Regions from separate parts of the Homo sapiens genome. Here region 2 is linked to region 1. A link means that fine-mapping ties the variant in region 1 to the expression of a gene that starts in the linked region. Tissue or cell type: T cells. Region 1 holds a variant in brackets; the other region holds the start of a gene. All regions are shown on one strand. Distances are from middle to middle.

Region 1 (8,111 bases):
TGAAGTCGGTAAAATATGGGTTAAAAATCTTTGTTCTTTTTCTTAAGGATGATGAGCAAATTATTCAATTTTCCTCAACTGTGGTCCCCTCATCTCTAAAATGGGGCATCTTAGGAAGAGTAAATGTGACAAAGAATGTAAAGGGTTTAATGTTATGCTCACGGCGACATTTGATGAATAATTTCTTAATTAATCTCAGAAATCAAAGCAGATAAGCTGAATAGCTACTGAGGCTATGTTGTTCAATTTTGAAATTTCAGTCTAGGCCCATGGAATTCTTTGGGTGCTGCTGGTTACTTTGTGTGCAGTGCATTATGTGGAGGTCCCTGAATCCTTCTCTATCTGCTGAGCAGTTAAAAGGCAGTTCTTTAACTGGAAGCAAACACGAAGACTAAACTGTCCTAGTTTTGAGGAAGAATAAGAAGGAGGAGGAGGAGGAGGAGAAGGAGAAAATGAAGATGAAGAAGACGAGAAGAAGAAGAAGATTAAGAAGAAGATGATTAAGGATTCTGCAACAGTTCTGTCATTGCAAATGACTACCCATTTCTAACCACGACATAAATTCAGAGGAAAACTTTCCTCTTTCTATAGCTGAACATGCTTAATTAATAAATATGGTTAGTTCCTTCCATAAGTATCCTTTAGGGGGAGACCACTAAACAATCAACCATTTCTAGCACAAAATTAAAAATATCAGTCTCCTAAATATTTAGTTCACTTGAGGCTCTTGGCATTAATTATTAAATGGATGAAGGCAAACAATATCTCAGCCACTTGCACGATCTAGGCATAATCTTGTGTGCTGTATCTGTAGAGGTCAGAGGAAGTAGGGATTGGAAAAATAATCAAGGCACTGAAGTCTACACTAGACTACTGTTTTAGTTAAACTTATTTTATTTGCTTTTTTATGTTGATCATATCATATGTTGATATATGCCCATATATGCGTTTATAGGGCAGCAATAAACTCCAGTGTCAGGAGGCTGGACAGTCTCTGTTTTCCTCTTCAGGTCTATTCTATCCTGCTCTGTACTAAAGTCTATATTAGACTATTGTTTTAAACTTATTTTATTTGTCTTTTTATGTTTGTCAAAATGCAGTATAGCTATGCCCGTATATGCATTTGTAGGGCAGCAATAAACTCCAGCATCAGAGGGCTGGACATTTCTCCATTTTCCTCTTCAGGTCTATTATATCCTGCTCTGTACCCCAGGAGGCTGACTTCTATACGTTATGTGGACTGGTCTCCCATGTCCATTGGCATCTGGTTGGGTTTACCCCAGTGGGAGGTATTAGCAGGAGAGAGTGGTCAAGATATTTGCATTTTAGGATCCTTTCTTTCCTCTACTGAAGTTTACAGCTCCTGTTGGGTCTACCCAGAATATGGTCAAGAAGAGGTATTTAGACTGTAAAGGGTCATGTCGCCTTTGGCCTGTGATTAGTTACAGGTGTCCTGAGATTAGGGTAATTTCATCTTCTCCCGTCCCTTTGGGCCTAGGAGTGGTGAAATCTTCTGGCTGTTATTAGCCCCAGGTGCTTCACCTTCCCTTGTAGTTTTCCCTAAATTTTGCACATACACTTAAAAATATTCTTTTTGTTAAGCTTTTTTTCAATGATTTTCTCGAGGCGATTGCCAGGACCCTCAAAAAGACAACACTAACACTCATTTTAGGCTTGAGGCAGAGAGAGAAGAAAGAGAAGAAATTCACTATATGTTTCCATTTATGACAAGTCTCTCTGGAACTTGAAGATTATTGTTTAAAGACAGTTTACCAATTCCAAAGAAAAACATTATTATATGGCTAAGTTTTCAATGATTAAATATGAGATCTTTAGCAAAGCTTTTAGAAAGAATTATGTTCCACTTTTTTTCTGATTCAAAGCAAAGAGATTTTTCATCCTTTCCTCAGAATATATAGTGAACATTATTTGGACACTATTCAAAAGAAACAGAAGGCAAATCAGAGGAACAACTTCTTTATATTGATACATGCTTTTTACATTAAAATTAAAATCTATCAAAGAATCACTCAGTTGCTATTGTTGCCTTTTTTTAGTATAAAACTTTAGCATGCCATCCCTTTCCAATGAACCCCTTTTCCCCATCATAATACATCAAGTTTCGTTAACCATACATTTTTTGCTGAATACGTACTTCATTTGAAGTCTGTTTTAAGTAGGCTCTGCATGTGGAAAGTACCTGTTTTGCAACCCCTTCTCAGAGTTTCATTTTTTTGTTTTATATGTACTGTTTAATATGACAAATGCTCCAAAAATATTTATAACACCTATTCGTACTTTTCTCACTCTAAAAATGTTTAAAGAGAAGATTCAAGTTTCTTTTTGCCCTAAAGATCATTATGGGATGGGCTCCTAATAGGCCCAACGTGGAGAAAATTCTGAGTTATTTTTGGTCAAAGAGGTTTACACAGAAGCCAGCTCTGAATTACTTCTAACGAGAAGAGCAAGGCTCCTGTTTTCGCCTGTCATTTATCTTCTCTTGCCTTACTCTTTTCTCCTATTTTGCTTTTTCTTATCTCTCACTTTAAATTTTTCTCTCCCTCTTGATGCAAAGCTATATTTTCCTTTCTTTTTCTGTGCATTTTCCCATCCTATTTCCCTTCTTTCTGTCTCTACATTATCTTAAGAGAGCACAAATCATTTACAGCTTGATCCACTCAGCCTGAATCTTTTCCACTTTGATTCACAAACTTCTATTTCTTCTCCTTTGAACCCCTAATTTGCTCCCTATGTCCCTCATGGAGCGTGTAACCATCCAAAGGTTGGCCCAGGGATAAGGCCAGGAAGCACCAGCTGCTTGACAGTAAAGTCGCTGGTCCTACGTGTGGGCTCTAGGGGGCGATGCAGTGTAAGGTCTGTCCTGGGCATAGGCGGAGCGGCAGTCTTGCTCCTCACAGAGCTTTGAGGAGCTGGATCAAAATTGTGCTCCACAGAGAGAAGATACCGGTGTCGGGAAGCACCAGTGCCCTGAGGAAGGGCCATTTCCAAAAGCCCTGTGCTGACACAGGGTTGCTGGTTCCTCTTCAAGAGCCCACTCTCTGGGGTGGGGCCATATCTCCAGCAGAGGTGGGCTGGAAAGGACCCCCCCA[A/G]TCCCGCCCGCCGTGAGCTTAGCTGGAGCCATGGCCTCTGCACCCATCTCGATGCTTGCGATGCTCTTCACATTGAGTGAGTAATATCCCCTTCCCATTTTCCACTCGCATGATCCACTTACATGCTCTCCAGCAGCTTCACTGATGCAGCATGATTAATTTACAGGTGGGCTGAGAGCTCAGTCAGTGGCTCAGCCGGAAGATCAGGTCAACGTTGCTGAAGGGAATCCTCTGACTGTGAAATGCACCTATTCAGTCTCTGGAAACCCTTATCTTTTTTGGTATGTTCAATACCCCAACCGAGGCCTCCAGTTCCTTCTGAAATACATCACAGGGGATAACCTGGTTAAAGGCAGCTATGGCTTTGAAGCTGAATTTAACAAGAGCCAAACCTCCTTCCACCTGAAGAAACCATCTGCCCTTGTGAGCGACTCCGCTTTGTACTTCTGTGCTGTGAGAGACACACACTGATAGGGGCTGCAGGGGGAGCAGAACACAAACTCTTGAGTCTGGTAAAGCCCATTTTCTTGAAGTCTTTGTTCCTTCACATGAGAACGGTGTGCTTCCAGGATATGTCACTTATTATGTTAAACTACAATTTAAAACCATAGAATTTGCTCATTCAGCAAGTGTTTATTGAGTCCTGATGTGCCAGGTACTGGGCAAAGCACCGGTCATAAAAAGGTGAAAGAAGTGTAAAACAAATAGAAAAAAACATAGGGGAAAATTACCATGACATTGGTCTGGGCAAGAAGTTCCTTCCTTCCTTCCTTCCTTCCTTCCTTCCTTCCTTCCTTCCTTCCTTCCTCCCTCCTTCCCTCCCTGCCTCTCTCTCTTTCTTTCTTTCTGAAAAGGGGTTTATTTTCAACAGACATTTCTTTTTATACCGAGGTGAAATGTCATCATCATAATAATTTTGCAATGTTACATACCCTGTTGAGACCATTAAAAAATTAGGTTCATGGTATACACGTCCAAGTTTGTTACAAAAGCATATTGTGTGATGCTGTGGTTTGGGCATCTATTGATCCTGCCACCCGAAGAGTGAACATAGTACCCAGGAGAAAGCTTTTCATCTCTTGTGAGCAAGGAATTTTTGGATATGACCCCAAAAGCACAGGCAACAAAAGCAAAAATAGACAAATGGGGCTATATTAAACTAAAAAGCTTCTGCACAGCAAAAGAAACAATAAATAGAGTGAAGGGAAAGCCTATGGAATGGGAGGAAATATTTGCAAACTCTACATCTGATAAGGGGTTAATATTCAAAATGTTTAAGAAGCTCACATACCAAAAACATCCAAATAACCTGATTAAAAAATAGGCCAAGGAACTGAATAGTCGTTTCTCAAATGAAGGCATAAAAATGGCCAAGAGGTATATAAAAAATGCTCAACATCATTAATTATCAGGAACGTGCAATTAAGACCACCATTAGATATCACCTCACAACCTATTAGGTTGGCTATTATCAAAAAGACAAAAGATAACAACCATTGTTGAGAAGGTGAAGAGAAGGGAACTCTTCCACACTGCTGGCAAGAACGTAAATTCCATAATGTGCAACCATTATGGAAAACAGTAGGGAGGTTTCTCAAAACACCAAAAATAGAACTACTGTATGATCCAGCAGTCTCACTATTGGGCATATATCCAAAGAAAATGAAATCAGTATGTTAAAGAGATATCTGCACTCTCATGTTTATTGCAGCACTATTCACAATAACCAAGATATGGAATCAATCTAAGTATCTATACTTAGATGAATGGATAAAGAAAACATGGCATATAAACACAATAAAATACTATTCAGTCTTATAAAAGGAAGAAATCCTGCCATTTGTGACAACACAATTGAGCCTGGAGGACATTATGTCAAGTGAAATAAGCCAGGCACAGAAAGACAAATACCACATAATCTCACTTATTTGTGTAATAAAAAGGTTGAATTTATCGAAGCAGAATAGAATTGTGGTTACCAGAGGCTTGTGAGGGGAATGGAAAGGGATTGGAGAGATGTTGGTTAAAGGACACAAAATTTTAATTAGATAGGAAGAATAAGTTCAAGATATCTACTGCAATGGTGACTATAGCTAATAATAATGTATTTGCAACAGAATTTTTTTTTTTTTTTTGAGACAGAGTCTCACTCTGTTGCCCAGGCTGGAGTGCAGTGGAGTGATCTCGGCTCACTGCAACCTCCACATCCCAGGTTCAAGCTATTCTCCTGCCTCAGCCTCCCAAGTAGCTGAGATTACAGGAGCCCGTCACTAACCCTGGCTATTTTTTTGTATTTTTAGTAAAGACGGGGTTTTACCATGTTGGCCAGGCTGGTCTCGAACTCCTAACCTTGTGATTCGCCTGCCTCAGCCTCCCAAAGTGCTGGGATTACAGGCGTGAGCCACCGCGCCCAGCTGCAACAGAAATTTCTAAAAATTGCTGAAAGTAGATTTTAAGTGTTCTTACCACAAAAAGGATATGTATGTGAGGTAATGCAGACGTTAATTAGCTTGATTTAGCCATTCCACAATGTACACATATTTCAAAACATTATGTTGTATACCATACATATATACAATTTTATTTGTCAGTTTAAAAAAGAATTGAAAGAAGCTATCTTTGATCTCTATGTGCCAGGTGTGTTTCCAAACATTAATGAACGCATTTAATTCTCACAAGTATTATCATCAGCTTCACTTTACAGATGAAGAAGCAAAGTCACAGAGAATTTAAGTATCTTGCTCAAGTCACAAAGTTAATAACTGGTAAATTGCAACCCAGGCAGTGTGTCTGTAGGGCACATGGTCCAACTACTCCACTCCTCTGCCAGTCTATAGGCTTCTTGGGGCAAGAGACTGATTTTGGTGATGGTGTAGCCCTAACTCCAGAAAGGGTCGCTGTCGGAAAAGTGTTGGTTATATGAATGAACAATACACTGACACTCTAAACAGTTTGGTGTGTGCCAAGATAGAGAATTCAAAAAATGCTCTATGAGATGAGGATATAGGAATAGCTTAGCTGTGAAAGAAGACAGAAGCAGTCTGTAATGGGAGGAGAGTTTGAATCAAGGAAGGGTATAAACGTGTAGTTCTTATAAGGATAGTTGCTTACGGTTCCTATGTTCACATCTTCCTTATGCTCTTGAGAGGAACTGGACTTAATGCACTTTTCTCTCTTTATCTTTTCCCAAATTTGAGTGTCGTGGGAAGGGCTCTGTTTGACTCAGTGTGAGTTAGGTGGCTTTTCCTTGGACTAATCAGTGGTGGCCATGGGTACAGGCTGCTTGGATTAGCCCAGCTTGGCTTCCACCTTTGGTGGCTGGGGGTGGGAGTGAGGATTCTGCAAGTTAGCAGCTCTATTTTGAACTGCCTGGTTAAAAGGAGTATGTCCCCAAATAAGTTAATTTTTACACAGGGATCTACATCTGTTTATTTTTTCCCCCAAATGGATAGCCAGTAGTTCTTACACCACCTCCTGAAAAATTCACTTTTGCCCCATAGATTTGAAATACCATATTTATAGTACATTAAATTCCTAGATATACTCAGATCTACTTTTGAACTCTTGATTTTTATAGTTTTGTGCTAGAATGTGCTGCTTTAGGGAGATTCACCCTGCAGCCTTTGGTTTGTACCTTGTGATTTACCAGCCTTCTTTTCCTATCCTTCAATCCATCACATACCTTGAGAAGCCTTATACACAAGGATGTGGACACCTTAGCCCACATGTCTACAGTCCAGGCAAACAGTGATCTTTTGGCCACCCATTGGGCCTAGAGTTGTGTACACAGGTGGGATATCTGCTTCTGGGAAGATAATCCTTGAGATAGGCCCATGCAGATCTTAAAAGTGTGTTTGGGGATGTTTGTGCAGGGAATTCTGAAATCCTAGTACCCAGAATATGGTCAAGAAGAGGTATTTAGACTCTAAAGGGCTATGTCTCCTTTGTCCTGTGATTTTCTCACAGGGAAAGGGATAAGAATAGCTGAATAATAGCTGGGGTGGAGGCACAGAACTCTGAGCAGGGACGTCACTTGCTCAGGTCTAAGGGTGGCAGTGTTCTGTACCATTACTGCCAGAATACATTTGTATTCATGAAACCATGGTATCTGTTTTAGATTTAAGTATACAGTTGCCATAACTCTAGGTAAGCTCTCAGCCACCATCACTGTTTTCACTCCAAAGGAAGTTCATGTCCACAGGGATATTTTTATCACATTACACCATTGACCTGGCTGTGTGGCCTGTTTCTGCCTTTGATACTTATAAATACAATTTATGCAAGTCCTGCAAAGGAAAGAAGTCTTTCTATACAATTATGATGTATTTATTCATTTAGCTATTCACTTATTCACTCAATGATTATTTGTGGAGTTTTGACTATGTGCTTGGCATTGTTATCATCCCTGCAGATGCAGTGGTGAACAAATCTTTCCCTCCAGTCATTCCCCAGGCTGCACACGTGTTCATATCACTTCCCTACCCAAACAGAACTACTTCTTAGTCAAAGAGATACAACTCTCAAGATGATTTCCTTCTCAGGAAAATTCTCCAAGGTTAAGCTAAGCCTTAGATATTAATCTTTTGTCATGTGGTAGTGATTGGTGGTGGTGGTGATGGGAGGGGAGTTATGTAGGGAAATGAGAATCTATATTTTCCCCCTTTTTTAAGGTGGCTCAGAGGGAACAACTATGTCTTTTTAGAAGTTCTGTTTTGACTTAAAGAAAAGTTAGTCTAGCATTCCTTTTTCCTGTTTGTTGGGAAATACTCCTTATAAACAGATAAACTTCAGGAAAAATGAGAAATTCTGGAAAACTTATCTTCATAAGGTTTATTTTTCTCCCCCCTTTTATATCACTTCAAGAACTTTGTGGAAAGAGAACTGAATTAAGAATTAGGGAGCATAGGTTGTTTCTGATTCTTCCTCTAAGTAACTATGTGACATTGGACATGCCATTTCTACTCTATGTGCCTCATCTCTTAATTAATGAAATTGAGATAA
Region 2 (8,111 bases), 50 kb before region 1:
CATCAATAAAGGACAGGTTGCTGAGGAAGAAATACATGGGAGTATGGAGCCGGTGGTCATAGATAATAGTTATGACAATGAGAACATTCCCAATCAGTGTCAGGACATAAAAAATGAGGAACATGGAAAACATAGCTATCCGTGCCTTATGATTTACAGATAAACCTCTAAGCCGAAAATATGTCACTAAAGAAGTTTGATTGAGTAGGATGGCCTCTTCCATTCTCTTTGTTAGACAACCTGTAAAGAATTAGAAAAAAAGTCTAATATAACACAGTATCTGCATCAATCATTTGGTCATTTAATTTCTTGTGTGTTTATGCCTTTTCTCTCCATCTAGAATTTATGGTAAAATATCTTGCATTTCTTTTAAAAATCCCCATTAACATCTTACATGATGATACACCCATAGTAGGTACTTAACATACACTTTTGGAATAATAAAATAGAGAATCTTCATTCATTAAGAGATATAAAACAATCTTGAAGAGGGAGAGAGAGAGGGAAAGACCAAACAAGTTATTTCTCCATTAATGTAGTAGGATATCAATGTTTAGATTTAGGTTATGGATTTTTACAGGAGAAGAAGTTAAGATTCTCTTTAACTCAAATACATAATTTGTTCAAGGCTACACAAATATGGTCCCTGAACATAGCTTTTTTTTTTAATAGTCCTGCAGACTGCACTTTTCATCAACCCAAACCACTTGCTCAGCTGTTGGCTTTGCCATGGGGCTCTGAGACTGTAATTTCCATGACATAACTTTCAGAGGGCAGAAGCTTTGTACCAAGCTACTGGACAATTGGCAACGTGGCTGTGATGTTCTTGAACAATTGTTTAGAGAAGGCAGGATAAAACCCTGGAAGCCTTGGAAAATGTGGAAGTTGACCTCTCCTCCACCCCTCAGCTGAGGGCAGACTTATTCTTAAACTGGGAGTCAAGATCCAAGCCTAATAACATTACTGTCTTGATTAGATCACTCTAGCTCTTTTCAAAGTCCCGTTCTGTTGTCTTACTGGCCCACAAGTGAAATAAAAATAGTTATTTTCTTTTAAATTAGCCTATGACTCAAGCACCACTATTTTTTAAAATAACGAGCATATGCATTATAGTCACAGGATTTTAGCCCTTAAAGGGACTTGAGAGTTGACATAATCTATTTTTTTTTCATTTTACAAATAGAGAAAATGAGGCACAGAGAGTCAAATCAACTGGTCCAAGGTTACACGGAACTGGAGTCACAGCTGGGTCTAGAGCTCAGGTCTCCCGACTCTTGGTTCAGGCTTCGTCCGCTCTACCACCACTCTCATCTGAATTTTTGTGGTAGTTGGTAGAATCAGGGAGTGAAGCAGAATATGTCTTAGTGGCCTCTCTCTTCCTCTCCTTGGTGTCCTGAGTCAGATTGTGGGGCAGGGTTAGGGGGACTATGAGGAATCTCTCTTTTCTAGCTTTCCTCCTTCATGCTGCTGCCCTGACACACACAGCCTTCCAGGGGTGGCCCACCCAAGGAAGCTGTCTCTCTTGGTTGCTTGGGCCCCATGATCCTTGCTACTTCCTTCCTATCACAAGTGACTACTGGAGATTTATATCATCCCTCAAGATCAGGCTCCCTGGCAGACTAATGAGTCAACCCCACACTGCTTGTGAAATGTGGCAAAGAAGATATTTTTGGGGCCAGAGAAGTCCTTCAGTTAACACTTAAAAATTAAACTCACTGTGTCCAGTGTTTGGATTAATATTTACAGCAGCATCTAAATGTAGCTATTGATTGATTTTACTGTTTAGAAATTTTTCTTCGAGTATTCGTTTGAAGCTTTTGCTCCAAGAAGTGATTTTAAGTGTTACTGATTTACACTTGTTTTCATGGTCGCAAAATTCAAAGCCGAAGAGCTGACCAAGAATGGGGCTAGGATTTTATTCAGTATGGGAAATTTCACCTGCACAGACTGAAGAGGGTGTGCAGACCAAGAACTAGGTCTGAAATGAAGGCTTCTGTTCTCCCCTCATAGAATATGGATATACATTTTAAACTAAACTTTTTCCATAATTATCATTTTTTTCTATTTCTGTGGAGCCACAGGAAAAAAATGCTTTGCAAAATGGAGATGTGTTCAACTGCAGTAGAAAGAATATGGTGCACAAGAAGAAAACCTAGTGTTTTTTGCATACATTTCAAGGAAATGGGGAAAGATGATTAAGAACAGATATAAAATCCAACTAAAATATCTATAAAAGTCACCTGGGTTGTTTCTGATGCTCTTAGTACCTCCAAAAGTAACAGAAGTGTCAGTCCTGCACTTTCAATATCAAGACTTTTATCTTCCAGTAGAAATAACAACTTATTTGAAGTTGGACTAGTCAGATAACCCCATTTACCTTGCTTTCTCCAATAAGAAAGGTGAGAGCCCTTGAAGTTCCCTCCTTAGGTCTTGTTCACAGTTTTGGTGATGTCACAGTAGATGTATTTGGCGATATTTTCTGGTAAAAGGTACTATTTCAGGCTGTCTGTAAAAATCACACCTTTGTAGCTATATTATTATCATATTTTTCAATATGTCAAAATATGTAATTCTGCACCAAGATTTTCTAGGATTGGTTTCCAGTTAACAGAAAATGTAGTACAGAAATAATATATATGTTTTCACTTTTCCAGATTGTAGTGGTGAGTAGAGGAGATTAAAAGCCACAGTCAAGCCCGGGCAACATGGCGAAACCCCGTCTCTACAAAAAATACAAAAAATTAGCTGGGCATGTTGGCTTATACCTGTGGTTCCAGCTGCTCAGGAGGCTGAGGCAGGAGGATTTCTTGAACCCAGGAGGTCAAGGCTGCAGTGAGCCGTGATTTTACCACTGCACTCCATCCTGAGCAACACAACGACCCTGTCCAAAAAAAAAAAAAAAAAAAAAGAGTCAGCCACTTTTGCAGGCCCTTCAGGTTTATTAGGACACTTCTAACACAAAACTTGATCTAATTATTCAGAAAACCAGTGCGGCAGAAGCATCCTATTTCCTTTGCAGCACACTGTTTAGGTGCAAGTTTTGTATTGCCAGTTTCAGGTGGATTATTCCACCTTCAAGTACTGAAGGGGAATCTGTAGAGAAAGAAGCGCTGGCAGCTGTAGTGTTGGTGTTGTTCTACCTACATTATATAGGCTTTATGTCCTTGGGAACTTTTAAGCAATGACATCAGCTTGCCCTACTCACTAGTTAAGAAAAGTTAATTCTGTGGGGAATGAAGTTACAGACTTTGCAATAATCACCAAGAGAATTAAATGAGAAAAGCAGTACTTAAATACCTAAATCTTTAGGATGTATTTATATATGGTTAGATTAACTACTATTTAGTGATTGCCTACTATGTGCTAAGTATTAGGTAATAGGCTTTCATGTTTTCTTATTTAACTCATATAAAAATACAGAGATGAGAGAAGGGTAATGAAGTTAAGATTTTTTTTTTTTTTTGAGATGGAGTCTCACTCTGTCACCCAGGCTAGAGTACAGTGGCGCGATCTCTGCTCACTGCAGGCGCCGTTCCCCAGGTTTACGCCATTCTCCTGCCTCAGCCTCCTGTGTAGCTGGGACTACGGGTGCCTGCTACCTTGCCCGGCTAATTTTTTTTGTATTTTTAGTAGAGACGGGGTTTCACCGTGTTAGCCAGGATGGTCTTGATCTCCTGACCTCGTGATCCGCCTGCCTCGGCCTTCCAAAGTGCTGGAATTACAGGCATGAGCTACTGCGCCCAGCCGAGGTTAAGATTTTAGTCAGCTTTCTGACAGAGAGATTAAGTGCTTTGACTCTAGAGCAGATTGGGTGCAAATTCCAATGTCCTACACGTGCTAATTGGAGCAAGTTATTTAGCTTCTCTGGTCCTTAGATTTCCCATCCGTAAGCTTGAATAGTAATAGTAAAACTTTTTAGAACTCTTGAAATATTTGTAAAGCATGTAGCTCTTAGCATATTAATATAATTATGTTAAATGCAATTCAAACAAACAAAAAAACAGCCGACCATCACTACCAGTCAACATTTTTGGCTTCATTTTTTCATTATTTTGGATAACAGTGAAAATTTAGAACCTCTTGTTCCAATTTTCTTTTTGCTTTCTCTCTTTAGATAGATGAGCTTGGTGGTTTAAATTGGTGAAACAAGACTCCAAAGGAGAGGTATGAAGATTATACTTTCAGTTTGAATTTCAAGACTGAATAGTTTTGTGGGATGGTTAGGATATCTTAAATAAAGGGTATGGAGCATAAAATAAATCTTATAGCCAACTCTCCATGTGACAGTGAGTAGAAGAGAAGATGGTAATAAGAGTGAACATATCAGAAGTTACAGAAAATGCTTTCTCCTAAGGCCTTGTGGCTTGGGCTTCTTTTCCCTAGTTTTCTTGTTTGATTCATTATCACTGATCAAAGTCCAGACTTGGCTGTAATGAAGAAGGTGTAGCTTCCAGAACTTTACAGATATTGCCACTTGGTCACTGTGGGACTTCTATTGTCATTGTAATAGCCTTGGAAATCAGGGGACACATTAAGAACAGGGATATGCTGGCCATACTAATTATCTGTTAAAACAAATGAAATATGGCCTGAGAAGGACTCTGTACTTGAGTCCTTGTGGATGACCTGTAACCTAGCTTAATAGGCAGACAAGATTGAAAACCTAACTTAGGAGTATGCACCTGTAACAGTAGCTGAGTTTTGGCCAATCCCAGCAGCCATACTTCAACCACTCATAGTCTGCTAAGTGTTCAAACTGTGTTCAAATAAGGCAAATGTCAACCTGGTGCACCAATCCAGCTGTTTCTATACCTCACTTCTGATTTCTGTACTTCATTTCCCCTTTTCTTTTGTCTGTAAATCTTCTTCCACCATGTGGCTGTGCTGGAGTCTCTCTGAATCTTGCTTTGATTCTGGGGGCTGCCTGATTTGCGAATGATACTTTGCTCAATTAAACTTCTTTAAATTTAATTTGGCTGAAGCTTTTCTTTTAACAAATGGTGTCAGAAGTGGGATCTGAAGTAGACCTTCTAACAACCTCCAAAATTGCTGAGTCAACAAGCAAGTTACCTGATGAACGTATTTGTGTCCTTTGATGTCTCAGAATGGCTGGGGATTGTGGTAAGTTCTCTCTCAGATTTCGGAGCTCCACAGATTTATGTTTTGAGCTCTCCAGGTTTCTTTGAGCAAATTTCTGATCCAAACTGGGTTTGAAAGTCATGACAGAAACTGGACGGGTTGAGGATCAAATTTGATCTGGTAATTAACTAGCTTGGATCCAGTTAGAAGCCTCTTACCTCTGACTGGGTCAGAAAGAAACTGGTAGTAAGAGGTAATATTGCAGGGGTTATAAAATTTTGCTTTTAAAAATTCACAAGGATTTTTGTGTTCTACTCCTTTGTTTCATTTTTCTTGCACACTTAGGTAGGAAAGATCATTGGCTAAGTTAATCAATGGAACCTAGAGCCACGCCAATATTTTAGGTAAAAATGGGATTCTCAGTTTCTGAAAAACTGAGTTCCTTCTAGCTTATACATTATACATACATTATACATACATATACATTCCTTCCAACTTATACATTAGGCCTGGGAAGCAGCAAAGTCTTAGAGAAATGGTGAAATCTTACTAAAGATAATTTACAGTGGAATGTTCTGAATAAACAACAACATAGAAGTGTATTTAAAAATAAGGGCTCCTCCACGTGGCTCAGGCCTGTAATCCCAGCACTTTGGGAGGCCCAGGCGGGCGGATCACGAGGTCAGGAGATCAAGACCAGGGTGAAACCCCGTCTCTACTAAAAATACAAAAAATTAGCCGGGCGCAGTGGCGGGCGCATGTAGTCCCAGCTACTCGGGAGGCTGAGGCAGGAGAATCGCATGAACCCGGGAGGCGGAGCTTGCCCTCAGCCGAGATCGCACCACTGCACTCCAGCCCAGGCGACAGAGTAAGACTCTGTCTCAAAAAAAAACAAAAAAAAAACAAAAAAAGGGCTCCTCAAAATTAAATCTGCTAACTGTTTAGTTTAGTTACTATCCTGATCCAAAGGAAACAGACTGCAGCACCAATTGGCTGACTTTGGGTAAGTAGTGGGGTACATTTTACCTGAGTAAAGGATGGGATTGCATTGGAGGCCCTCCCCTCAGTAAAGTCCCTCTTGGTTAAAAATGGATTAAAGATGACAGGGCTCAACCAGGGGCAAGTTTGAGCCTTGCCAGTTCAATACTGCATGCTAAGCAGAGTGGCTAATGTCTATGTTTTGTCACATGTATTTTGCTCTGTCCAGAATGCCAAATGTTAATTTCATTACCCTATGCAACCCCTTGGGTGGCATCCTGCAACAGTGAGAAAATTTTGCCTGTGGTTCCATGATTTTTTGTGTATGTGGTTGGCTCCCTGGCACTATAGTATGTTTCAGGGAAGGGGAACCCAGGAACCTAACACGCTGGCAAAAGTGTAAGAATTTCTTACCAGTCAGGTTTCTGGCCTCTCTTTCCCTGTGCTTCTCTTTCCTTGTGCAAACTGGGAAAGTTCTGGCCTCTCTTTCCCTGTGTAAACTGGTTAAATGAATGGTAAAAAATCACTGTTTATCTTCTGCAAAGTTTTGATTAATGGAAAAAAGTATTTATGAGGTTAGTCTTAAGCTGTAGCGAATCTGGTATGTTTATGCATCTTCTGTATCATTCTTTCATAAAGAGGGGTACCATAGGATTGAACATGGGCTTTAAACCCCATAAGCCCACTGCTCAAGATGGCCCAGCAAGCTGGTCAGTAACAAACTTTGCTGCAGGATCCTGAAACAAACAAAAAAACTGGATAAGGTCTCCATATTGTTTTATGTCTTTGGGAGCTTGACCTTGTGACCATATGGTGGTACTTTCTCTTGCTCTCTGCCTTCCAGGGAAAAGGAATTTTAGGGTTCATGTCATAGTTACCTCTAAAAATTATCTTGAGTAGTTAAAAGCCTTTGCAAGCTCAAAATTAACTACTCTAGACTCCTTCTGGGATGGGCAGTGGAGACTTCCCAGTGCTGTAGCTCAGTAGCTAAGATTTTGTTCTTTCACAGTGGTGGCTTGGATTCAATCCTGGCTTAGGAAATGCATACTTTCTGGTTGATATCTGTGTGACCTTTATCATTTGTTAATTCTCTTCCTCTCCATGAACAACTTCTGACTTCCCTTCTTGAATTTTCCTTTCTTTGAGCTACCTTTGAAGATTCTAGATTTTGTAAAAACTGCATGTTTTCCTAGCCCTGTTTCTTGAAGGGCTCTGCCCTAAGGCCAGAATTAAGAAACTGGCAAATAAAACATCTAATAACTACTGGATCTTCTTCTGTCTGTGTATTTATGTATGTGTTGTGTGTATGATGTTTATATAAAAGATCTCTAATTAATTGGCATAAAAATAAGCTCTTAAATCAAATATTTTGAAAGAAAGATAAAAATCCTAATGTCTTTTAGCTCATGTAACTTTAGTAATCTTTGGGAAATAAAAACAGCTTTAAAGATTATTGGTAAAATAAAGACATTTGGTCTAAATTAGGCAGGTCAGATATTAGGTTTATTAAATGCTTTAAGGTCATGAACTGTTTTGACTTTTGAAAATTGTTCAATTTACCTACCTTGAAGACACTAGATTCTAGATAAGCCCTGGGGACATGTGGAATTAGCAATGCCCCTTAGCCATGCAAAGAAGGTTATAAAGAAAAGATATTTTTATATAAGAAAGAATACTGTATGTTAAATTCTTATCCTAAAGTAAAATAATGGTTATTTAAAAAGAGAGATGTTTAGGACAAGTCAGAAAGTCCAAGCACACTGTAGATGAAAGTCTGTGTAAGTCATGAAAGGATTCGTGAAAGGAAATCTGTGCACCAAAAGCAAAAGTTGCTGAGTTACCATTATAAGATGTGATTGAGATTACTGAAAAAAATAGTTTTACGTGCAGGGTATGTGAGGATAGTAAAATGTGTTTTTGGCAAAAGATTATAAGAAGGCATGGGAATGTAAATTTTTGCCTAGTTTAGAGGGTTAAAGGATTGTTTTAAATTATGTTAGAATAAGCTAAAAGCTTGAACAAGGTGTAGAAGGGTTGTAAAAATTAATCTTGTA

Direction of the effects. Positions count from the first base shown, and alleles are read on the strand shown. Sizes are in standard deviations (SD) of each study's normalised expression.
For the expression in T cells of the gene that starts at base 3,106 in region 2, G is the high allele of the variant in region 1 and A is the other (moderate effect, 0.46 SD a copy in GENCORD).

The links. PIP is the estimated chance that this variant, and not a neighbour inherited with it, causes the effect.
Region 2: OR4E1 starts here. The variant in region 1 is fine-mapped to the expression of OR4E1 in T cells (GENCORD, PIP 0.95).

Annotation. Positions count from the first base shown.
Region 1 is chr14:21,720,749-21,728,859 of GRCh38, forward strand. It overlaps TRA and TRAV3. Among named protein-coding and RNA genes, the nearest start is that of OR4E1, 51 kb to the left of the region's middle. The variant A/G (reference allele first, on the strand shown) is at 3,111.
Region 2 is chr14:21,670,713-21,678,823 of GRCh38, forward strand. It overlaps OR4E1 (olfactory receptor family 4 subfamily E member 1), which reads right to left and starts at 3,106. Exons shown (of 2, transcript NM_001317107.2): 1 at 2,378-3,106; 2 at 1-240. The coding sequence starts at 223. It also overlaps TRA.